Linked DNA regions of Homo sapiens. The protein of the gene in region 3 interacts with the protein of the main gene of each other region in a pairwise test. Each region holds a gene or a part of one and is shown on either strand. Other genes may lie near its edges.

The links.
Region 1: the proteins of UBE2K (region 3) and TRIM5 interact in binary tests that used the Homo sapiens proteins (3 or more experiments, as listed by UniProt).
Region 2: the proteins of UBE2K (region 3) and ZFTRAF1 interact in binary tests that used the Homo sapiens proteins (3 or more experiments, as listed by UniProt).

What each region holds. Positions count from the first base shown.
Region 1 is NC_000011.10:5,675,010-5,678,659, reverse strand, and holds part of TRIM5 (tripartite motif-containing protein 5), read left to right. Parts: intron 1-225; coding exon 226-456; intron 457-3,650.
Region 2 is NC_000008.11:144,452,860-144,456,509, reverse strand, and holds part of ZFTRAF1 (zinc finger TRAF-type-containing protein 1), read left to right. Parts: intron 1-3,049; coding exon 3,050-3,288; intron 3,289-3,650. Other genes in the region: TMEM276-ZFTRAF1 (uncharacterized protein LOC157542 isoform 1 precursor), read left to right, coding at 3,050-3,288.
Region 3 is NC_000004.12:39,739,588-39,743,237, forward strand, and holds part of UBE2K (ubiquitin-conjugating enzyme E2 K), read left to right. Parts: intron 1-3,650. UniProt on the Homo sapiens protein: Accepts ubiquitin from the E1 complex and catalyzes its covalent attachment to other proteins. In vitro, in the presence or in the absence of BRCA1-BARD1 E3 ubiquitin-protein ligase complex, catalyzes the synthesis of 'Lys-48'-linked polyubiquitin chains.

The DNA.
Region 1 (3,650 bases), on a different chromosome or scaffold from region 3:
GTAACCCATTTTGATGCAGGATGAACCTCAATATACCCATTCAAGGTCATTGTTTTAAAATGTCATGAAGGAAAAGAAATAGGAAAAGGCAGCTTTCCTAAGACCTACTCTCCTGCTACTATGTCCCCTCCTTGTGAGAACTCCCCAAAAGAAACAGCTCCTTTTCTGGCTAACAGCCTCTGCCTGGTAGACTGAGTGCCCCTTTCTCTTCTCTTATCTCTGAAGACTCAAATACAGTATGACAAAACCAACGTCTTGGCAGATTTTGAGCAACTGAGAGACATCCTGGACTGGGAGGAGAGCAATGAGCTGCAAAACCTGGAGAAGGAGGAGGAAGACATTCTGAAAAGCCTTACGAACTCTGAAACTGAGATGGTGCAGCAGACCCAGTCCCTGAGAGAGCTCATCTCAGATCTGGAGCATCGGCTGCAGGGGTCAGTGATGGAGCTGCTTCAGGTAAAAAGTGGAAAGAAGCCTGAGCACTGAGATTAAAGAAAAGTGAAGGCTATTTCCTTCTCTGCGTTGCTGTGCTTTTTCTAATATTAACAATGTTCTCTGCAGGACCGCTTTTCTGAATCAATTGCTGAAGTTATAAGAATAATTGAATGTAGAAGTAGCAAGAGATAATCCCATTTTTATTAATTTATCCAGAGCAGTAGAAAAATTTGACGTAGTGGAGATGATCAATTAGCTCTAGTCATGTTTGATAGGTTCCTATTCTCTGTATTCTAGTGTTGAGACTTACCAGTGCAGCTTTTCATTGCTCAGCTTAGCCACTGGCAAACAAATACACGTCAAAATACAAGATGCTTTTTATTTTTTTCCTTCATGGAATTAATTGAGACTTTTTCCTTTTTTTTTAATTTTCTGAAAAGAATTAAATAACTGCTATCATTTCTTCTTTATATGCTCAATAGAATTCACTAGTAAAGGCTGGGCGCGGTGGCTCACGCCTGTAATCCCAGCACTTTGGGAGGCCCAGGAGGGCCAGTCATGAGGTCAGGAGGCCCAGGCGGGCCAGTCATGAGGTCAGGCGATTGAGACCATCCTGGCTAACACGGTGAAACCCCGTCTCTACTAAAAATACAAAAAATTCTAGATCCCTGAGGAATCGCCACACTGACTTCCACAATGGTTGAACTAGTTTACAGTCCCACCAACAGTGTAAAAGTGTTCCTATTTCTCCACATCCTCTCCAGCACCTGTTGTTTCCAGACTTTTTAATGATTGCCATTCTAACTGGTGTGAGATGGTATCTCATTGTGGTTTTGATTTGCATTTCTCTGATGGCCAGTGATGATGAGCATTTTTTCATGTGCTTTTTGGCTGCATAAATGTCTTCTTTTGAGAAGTGTCTGTTCATGTCCTTCGCCCACTTTTTGATGGGGTTGTTTGTTTTTTTCTTGTAAATTTGTTTGAGTTCATTGTAGATTCCGGATATTAGCCCTTTGTCAGATGAGTGGGTTGTGAAAATTTTCTCCCATTTTGTAGGTTGCCTGTTCACTTTGATGGTAGTTTCTTTTGCTGTGCAGAAGCTCTTTAGTTTAATTAGATCCCATTTGTCAATTTTGTCTTTTGTTGCCATTGCTTTTGGTGTTTTAGACATGAAGTCCTTGTCCATGCCTATGTCCTGAATGGTACTGCCTAGGTTTTCTTCTAGGGTTTTTGTGGTTTTAGGTCTAACGTTTAAGTCTTTAATCCATCTTGAATTGATTTTTGTATAAGGTGTAAGGAAGGGATCCAGTTTCAGCTTTCTACATATGGCTAGCCAGTTTTCCCAGCACCATTTATTAAATAGGGAATCCTTTCCCCATTGCTTGTTTTTCTCAGGTTTGTCAAAGATCAGATAGTTGTAGATATGCGTCGTTATTTCTGAGGGCTCTGTTCTGTTCCATTGATCTATATCTCTGTTTTGGTACCAGTACCATGCTGTTTTGGTTACTGTAGCCTTGTAGTATAGTTTGAAGTCAGGTAGTGTGATGCCTCCAGCTTTGTTCTTTTGGCTTAGGATTGCCTTGGTGATGCGGGCTCTTTTTTGGTTCCATATGAACTTTAAAGTAGTTTTTTCCAATTCTGTGAAGTCATTGTTAGCTTGATGGGGATGGCATTGAATCTGTAAATTACCTTGGGCAGTATGGCCATTTTCACGATATTGATTCTTCCTACCCATGAGCATGGAATGTTCTTCCATTTGTTTGTATCCTCTTTTATTTCCTTGAGTAGTGGTTTGTAGTTCTCCTTGAAGAAGTCCTTCACGTCCCTTGTAAGTTGGATTCCTAGGTATTTTATTCTCTTTGAAGCAATTGTGAATGGGAGTTCACTCATGATTTGGCTCTCTGTTTGTCTGTTGTTGGTGTATAAGAATGCTTGTGATTTTTGTACATTGATTTTGTATCCTGAGACTTTGCTGAAGTATACCATTTGACCCAGCCATCCCATTACTGGGTATATACCCAAAGGACTATAAATCATGCTGCTATAAAGACACATGCACACGTATGTTTATTGTGGCATTATTCACAATAGCAAAGACTTGGAACCAACCCAAATGTCCAACAATGATAGACTGGATTAAGAAAATGTGGCACGTATACACCATGGAATACTATGCAGCCATAAAAAATGATGAGTTCATGTCCTTTGTAGGGACATGGATGAAATTGGAAATCATCATTCTCAGTAAACTATCGCAAGAACAAAAAATCAAACACCGCATATTCTCACTCATAGGTGGGAATTGAACAATGAGATCACATGGACACAGGAAGGGGAATATCACACTCTGGGGACTATGGTGGGGTGGGGGGAGGGGGGAGGGATAGCACTGGGAGATATACCTAATGCTAGATGACGAGTTAGTGGGTGCAGCGCACCAGCATGGCACATGTATACATATGTAACTAACCTGCACAATGTGCACATGTACTCTAAAACTTAAAGTATAATAAAACAAAAACAAAAACAAAAAAAACACAACAGAAGAAAAAAAAAAAAAAAGAAATGCAAGAAAGCTAGCACCCCCAGGGGCATCCTTCAACCAATGGGGTTGGGAGTTGATGGAGAAATGCCTCAGCTCTCAGTGTTTCGGGCAGAGATTCTGGGGCATTCCCAGGAGGTTTGGTGGGATCATGATCCCATAATGCCCAGAAACAACCCCAACAGCTTACTCATACATTGGCTTCTCCTCCTCCCTGTCTTACCTCCCTGCTCCCTCATTCCTGCTTCCTGGGGTCAGGTAAATCACCTGGACCCAGGTCCTTGTCTCAGGCTCTACGTTCAGTGTTTCTCATGCTGTATTCCTCGGAACCCCAGGGCACCTTAGGATGTGTCTACCCCTCTCTCACCTGCATTTGATTTAATGCTCTGTTGTCATCATCTTGAAATGTTTAATAAATTTTGAACAAGGGGCCGCATATTTTCATTTTGCATTGTACCCCACAAATGAAAAAAAATAATACAAAAAATTAGCCAGGCGTGGTGGCGGGCACCTGTAATCCCAGCTACTTGGGAGGCTGAGGCAGGAGAATAGTGTGAACCCGGGAGGCGGAGCTTGCAGTGAGCCAAGACTGCACCACTGCACTCCAGCCTGGGCAACAGTGCGAGACTCCATCTCAAAAAAAAAAGAAAACTGCTCTTATCCCAATTTTCAA
Region 2 (3,650 bases), on a different chromosome or scaffold from region 3:
GTGCCCGGGCTCTTGGGGGCCTTGGCCCACGCCATCCCCTGGACTGTGCGGCGCCCTCCAGGGCCCAGCTTCTGTTGGGTGTTGGGCACAAGTCAGAATCAAGTGCATCTGGCCAGATGCTGCCAGGGCCAAGGATGCAGCTGCCTGTGGCCTGGCCTTGGTGTAGAGCCAGAGTCTTGCGCAGGGGCTGAGGGGACCCAGATGGTGGGGAGGCTCCGGAGCATGTGACCAGGGACCGTCCTGCTGTGGACAGACCTCCTGGGCTGAGTGTTGGTCGGGACCGGGCCATGCACCTAGAGATGTCCTTTGACCAGTGGGGAGGGTCTGGGGGTGAGTGTGGCTGTGTCCCTTGGCTACTGGGCCAGTGTAGTCCAGGGCACTCTAGGGACTCCCTGTGTTCTGACTTGAATGGAGCTATTGGGGCTGAAGGGGCAATGGCCCTGTGTCTCCTCGGAGCTTGCAGGTCCTCTTGGAGGCCCAGAGAGAGCCAGAGGAGGGCAGGGTCACTGCTGCCTCCTCATGGTATGGAATTGACTGAGCCCATGCTGGGATCTGGAGGCCCCAAAGGAATGAGGCCTGTGGCCAGGGGCCGGCCCAGGAGCTGGGGTGGCTTTCGGGGGAGAGGCCCGCAGTGCTGGGAGGTAAGTGGTGATGTGCTTGGCAGCCTCAGTGCTCCCTTAGGAGGGTCTAGGACCCCACCTCGAATCTTCCTGGGCTATGCAGAGCCAGGAAGAGAGGCCAGGTGGCCTTGGTGGGTGGCATTAGATGCTCCAGCCCTGCCTGGAACTCCCTTGGGGGTCGGGCCACAGCCAAGAAGAGTGCTGTTTTGCCTGTGCTAAGGCCACTGTACGTGCAGAGCTGGACCCAGAACCTCGTCCAAGGCCCCCGGCAGTCTCACCAGGAGGTGTTTAGAGCTGGCCACGTGGAGTGGCATACCTCCGGGGGGCGGGGGGCTGTGAGAGGACAGTGGTGTGGGCCCTTGGTCTGTGCCTCCCACAGGACAGCTGCTTCAATAGCATCTGTGCCCCCTCCTGCCTGTAGTCCACCCACCACTGACCCCTGGACTTGGCTGGCGGATTTTCACACCTTCTCCTGGGGGCAGGTCTCAGCTTGTCCCCAACCCAGTCAGAGCCAGTCTCACTCCCTGCCTCAGGCAACTGTGTATGTTTTAATTTTTATTTATTTATGTATTCATGAGATAGAGTCTCACTCTGTCTCCCAGGCTGGAGTGTAGTGGCACCATTTCGGCTCACTGCAACCTCCGCCTCCCGGGTTCGAGCCATTCTCCTGCCTCAGCCTCCTGAGAAGCTGAGATTACAGGCGCTCGCCACCATGCATGGCTAATTTTTGTATTTTTAGTAGAGATGGGGTTTCACCATGTTGGCCAGGCTGGTCATGAACTCCTAACCTCAGGTGACCTGCCTGCCTCGGCCTTCCAAAGTGCTGGGATTACAGGCATGAGCCACCGCCTGTAATTTTAATTTTTAACCAAACTGAGAACTTGAGGATTGAATGCAGGTAACGGGTGGTGTTCATGTGGATGTGGATTCCATGAAAGAGGGCTTTGTCCTCACTGTCGGTTCTCCACATGTAGGTCCTTTGACTCAGCAGGCCTTAGGCCTAGTCCACAGGTGCTGAGTGAACAGCCCCAGCGTCTGACAGCTCCTTAGCTTGGGGTGCACAGGCAGCTGAAGCAGTAGGATGGCAGCTCAGACTTCCCAGGGCCCCACGTGTGCAGGGCTGGCCTCCCAGCACCACCAGGCAGGGCCGGCCTCCCAGCGCCACCAGGCAGGGCCCTGTGAGTGTCCCCTCCCTGACACACACCTTGTAGAGAGGCTGGGCCTGGGCAGGCTGCTCTGCTGCACCACATCCCATTCTCAAGAGGGTCCCAGGTCCCAAAGGAAGCCTGTAGCCCAGTGGCTTTCTGGAGGTTTGCATGGCTGGCAAGCCTGGGCCGGCTGCTGGAGAGGCATCAGGACAGGAGCAACTCTGCTGACTGCTCCCCTCAGCGAGCTCTAAGAGTCTTTGGGTGGGAGGCACATCACATCCCTGTCACTCCTGGCTGGCCCTGGAATGCCTCAGCCCACACACCCCACTCCAGCCAGGGCTGTGGGAACTGTGTCTGCTCAGGTACAAAAGGCTTTGTTTGTTCTTGGACCTCTTGGTTCTGGTCTGGGCTTCCCACCTCCCATGCTGTGAGCCCCCACGGGCTGGGACCGCAGCTTGCCATGTGTCTCTCAGTGGCACCAAGTGGACGCTCGAGGCTTATGTTGAGGGAGTGAGAGCCAGGATAGGCCACTGGGCGTGCTGGGAGCCCACACAGGCAGGGAGCCCAGCGGGAGGTGCCCTGCTCCTGCCAGCCCCGGTTACCCCAGCAGGCTCGGCACCCACTCAGAGCCCCCATTTCTGCTCCCCAGGCACTCCCTGTGTGCCTACCTGCCCTTGTCCTTGTCCTGGGCCAGCTTGGCTCCTGCCTCCCAGCTCTGAGGAGGTCTCTGCAGGTAGCCAACCTCCCTGGACGAGGGGGCAGCTGCCTCCTCTCACCTGGGCTCACCCTGAGCCAAGTCCTCTCAACCCAGGATAAATGGCCTTTCTGAAGGCCCAGAGAGCATGCCTGCCCCAGTGTGGGAGCTGCATCCGCTCCCCACCTGACAGTGATGGCCAAGAGCCCAGTGTTCCTGGAGGGCTCCCAAACTCTGGACCTGTAGGGGGGTCAGGGCAGTCGCTGGTCCCTAAGGGAAAAGCGTGACCCTCGGCCCCAGGTGGCTGAACCCGTCACTGCCAGGGCGAGCTGTCACCTCTGTGAGCTGATGAGGCCTTGCTTTTAGGACCTCTAATCTCTGCAAGAACCCAAGCTGGCTCTGCCTGTTTCTCCTGAGCAGCTCGCAGTGTTCACCACACTCCAGCACGACTCGGGACAGGCACGTGCGCCCCTCTGCACCAGCTGGAGTCCCTCAGGACACCTGGCTGGAGCTGATGGGCATGGGCGGGTGTGTGCGAGCATGAGCCCGCAGGTCTGTGAGCTTCGTCTCCCTTTCCTTCTTCGCAGTGTACTAATGGTCACTTGATGTGCGCTGGCTGTTTTATCCACCTACTAGCAGATGCCCGGCTGAAGGAGGAGCAGGCCACGTGCCCCAATTGTCGTTGTGAGATCAGTAAGAGCCTCTGCTGCCGGAACCTGGCCGTGGAGAAAGCCGTGAGCGAGCTGCCTTCAGAGTGTGGCTTCTGCCTGCGCCAGTTTCCCCGCTCCCTCCTGGAGAGGCACCAGAAAGAGGAATGCCAGGACAGGTAACTGAGGGTCAGGGGCTTAGCCTTACAGGCGGGGCCCAGGACTGCTGGGAGCCCACCCTGGTGCAGCAGGGCCCTGTGCAGGGTGGTCTGGCTGTCTCTGCTGTCTGGGCCTTGGGGACCACCTGTGTAGCCCAGTGACGGCCCTGTGGGAGGGTGCCTGCACAGGATGGGGACAGGTGGGTTTTGCACCCAGTTGTTATCCGGACATGAGCCTAGCCTTCCAGTGCTCTTTGTGGCTGTGGGGGAGCCCCTTGAAGGGCCCAGGACAGCGTGTCCAACGCAGGACCTCAGGGAGCTTGGTGTGAGGGTACACTGCCCATGGCTACCCATCCAGTGGAGGCAGCCACCAAGTCTCCTGC
Region 3 (3,650 bases):
AGGCGCCCGCCACCATGCCCGGCTAATTTTTGTATTTTTAGTAGAGGCGGGGTTTCACCATATTGGCCAGGCTTGTCTTGAACTCCTGACCTTGTGATCTGCCCACCTCAGCCTCCCAAAGTGCTGAGATTACAGGCGTGAGCCACCGCACCGCACCCAGCCCATTTTTTTCTTTCTTTATTGGAGAGATGGCATCTTGCCAAGTTACCGAGGCTGGTCTCAAACCCCTGGCCTAAAACAATCCTCTTGCCTTGGTGTCCCAAAGTCTTGGGATTCTAGGCATGAGCCATTGTGCCCAACCTTGTACCAATTCTTAAGTGATAAAATTTTATTTTTTGTTTTATAGTTCATACGAGCCATTTCTAGATATTTAATTTTTTATGCTGTTTATCGAGTGCTTCCTATCTGCTTGGCTTGGTCTGGCAGTTTTCATGGATGCTGTTTCATTTAGTCCTTTTTGCAATCATTAAATGTAGAGGAGACCTTTAGTTATCTTTAAAAAATCAGATGCTTGTCCTAATAGCAGATGTTTTTATATAATAATATACTAGCTTCTTCTTGAAGTCAGACCTTATAGTTATTCTTGAATTTTTTTTTAGGTTGTTTTGAAGTATTTTTGGAAGATAGTAGGGCAGTGACATTATTCTAGAGGTCTGTCAGCAAAGTTTTAAATTTTTTCATTGATTTTTATAAACAAGGCACTTCCTGAGCTAAATTAGATAGAAGCAATATTTAATAGGTAGATTAATTTTTTTAATTGGATAATGTATACTTATATACATTAAGATATATTAAGATACACTAATTAGCCGGGCGAGGTGGTGGGCGCCTGTGGTCCCAGCTACTCGGGAGGCTGAGGCAGGAGAATGGCGTGAACCCCGGGAGGCGGAGCCTTCAGTGAGCCCAGATCGCGCTGCTGCACTCCAGCCTGGGCGACAGCGAGACTCTGTCCCAAAAAGAAAAAAAAAAAGATACATTAAGATATATTCTTATGGCCGAGTGCGGTGGCTCACACCTGTAATCCCAGCACTTTGGGAGGCTGAGGCGGGCAGATCACGAGGTCAGGAGATCGAGACCGTCCTGGCTAACACGATGAAACCCCGTCTCTACTAAAAATACAAAAAAATTAGCCAGGCGTGATGGTGGGCGCCTGTAGTCCCAGCTACTTGGGAGGCTGAGGCAGGAGAATGGTGTGAACCCGGGAGGCGGAGCTTGCAGTGAGCCGAGATTGTGCCATTGCACTCCAGCCTGGGCAACAGAGCAAGACTCCGTCTCAAAAAAAAAAAAAAAAAAAAGATATATTCTTTATTGGTTAGAAACAAGTTTGGTCATTTTTTTTCTTTTCTTTTTCCCGATACCGAGAATGGGACCAAAAGTTTGGTCATTTAAAAGTGCTTATATCTGCCTGGGCGGGGTGGCTGATGCCTGTAATCCCAGCACTTTGGGAGGCTGAAGCAGGTGGATCACGAGGTCAGGAGTTCAAGACCAGCCTGACCAACGTGGTGAAACTCCATCTCTACTAAAAATACAAAAATTAGCTGGGTGTGGTGGCGTGCGCCTATAATCCCAGCTACTCAGGAGGCTGAGGCAGGAGAATCCCTTGAATCCATGAGACGGAGGTTGCAGTGAGCTGAGATCGCACCACTGCACTCCAGCCTGGGCGACAGAGGGAGACTGCATCTCAAAAAAAAAAAGTGCTTATTTCTGCTGCTGCTGCTGCTAAATGAATATTTTGATAAGATTAGATTTAATATGCTTTTTATATATTTGAGGTAGAGTAACTTGAATTCTGTTATTTTATATAAAACTATTGAGAGAAGTTCATTTTGTTAAGGAAAACACCATTCAAGGACATAAACTTTAATGCTTTTTCTTTTAAATGTGACGATAGGTTAAATGTTTATTGCAAGGATGTTGCAGTTTTTTGAGTTTTTAAAAATCTAAACTTAAATGCTAAAGCAAAAGTTTACATGTGGAATGTTAAGCAATTTATAACCATTATTAAGTAATGAGGCAGCTGTTTTTGTAGTATTTAAAGAATCAGATTGTGAAGTAGAGTACTCACGGGAAAATGCCATATTGTGGATGTTACTTAACTCAATTTTCTTCACTTCTTTTGCCTTAATAATTCAATGACAAAGGAACAGTTTAGTTCTTGAGCTTTTCTTCCTAAAATTTCTTTTAGGTTTATGGAATCATTGTTGACAGCTTAAAAATTCTCATTCCTTCCTCATCTCCTCTTTGGGTTAAGTTAAATTTAAAGATTGTTAATTTTTAATATTAAAAGCTATTCTTCAAGAAGTTAATGTTTTAAAGTAAAAACTATTATAATATGAATAATATAGTTATCATAAGGATTCCTTAGTTGTATTACCCTGATCAAATAATGCTATGATTAATGCTAAGTGGTCATATATTGAAAGTTGTCAGAGCGTGTAACATAAGGGATAGAAATAAGATTTTAGAGACTCTCGAGTCCAGCATTATTTATATAATATCTGTGGGCCCTCACACTGCTCCTAAGAGATTATTTTGGCCATTAACAAAGAACTTTGTATGATGGGTTATAGAGATGGTTTAATCTGGAGTTTAATCAGAAAAAAAAAATTCTTAGGAAGGAAAAAGAAAAGCCTATGTAGTGCTGAAGCCAAATTTATTATAACTATATTTGAAGCTGGCATTTCTAATTCTGGGTATAGACAGTTATTGTCACAAAATTTCTTCAGGTACCCTTCTCTTACCTGTCAGTTTTTTTTTTCTTTCCACTACTTTTCTTTAAATTTCATTATTGTTATATGTTCTGTGATTCAGGCATTTAGTTCAACTCATGCATGAATCACTATGGGATTCTATTAAAAAGAACTAGCCACGAGGCATAACGGCTCATGCCTGTAATCCCATTACTTTGGGAGGCTGAGGCGGGTAGATTATTTGAGGTCAGGAGTTTGAGACCAGCTTAGCCAGCATGCTGAGACCCTGTCTCTACTTAAAAAAAAATTAAAAAATTAGCCAGGCATGGTGGCGCGCACCTGTAGTCCCAGCTACCCAGGAGGCTGAGGTAGGAGAATTGCTGGAACTGGGAGGTGAAGGTTGCAGTCAGCCGAGATCGCACCATTGCACTCCAGTCTGGGCAACAGAGTGAGAATCCGCCTCAAATAAAAAGTAGCCAGAAGAGAGGCCAGGCGCAATGGCTTATGCCTGTAATCCCAGCACTTTGGGAGGCTGAGGCAGGCGGATCACCTGAGGCCAGAAGTTCAAGCCCAGCCTGACCAACATGGTGAAACCTCATCTCTACTAAAAATACAAAAATTAGCTGGGCATTGTGGTGGGCACCTGTAAACCCAGTTACTCAGGAGACTGAGGCACAAGATTTGCTGGAACCTGAAAGGTGGAGGTTGCAGTGAGCCAAGATTGTGCCTCTGCACTCCAGCCTGGGCAACAGAACGACCCTGTCTCAGGAAAAAAAAAAAAAGAGAAGGATTCGAAACAAAAAGGGCTTGAAGAAAATAGTACCACTTTTATTTTTTCCTCAGATTCATAGTCATCCATCCATTCATAACAATGGAGGAGTGAGGAGATACATTTGAGAGAGTCTAGAATATACTGAAGAAAGTCTCTTGTTTGACTTTTTGAAGAGCTGAGTGTATAGA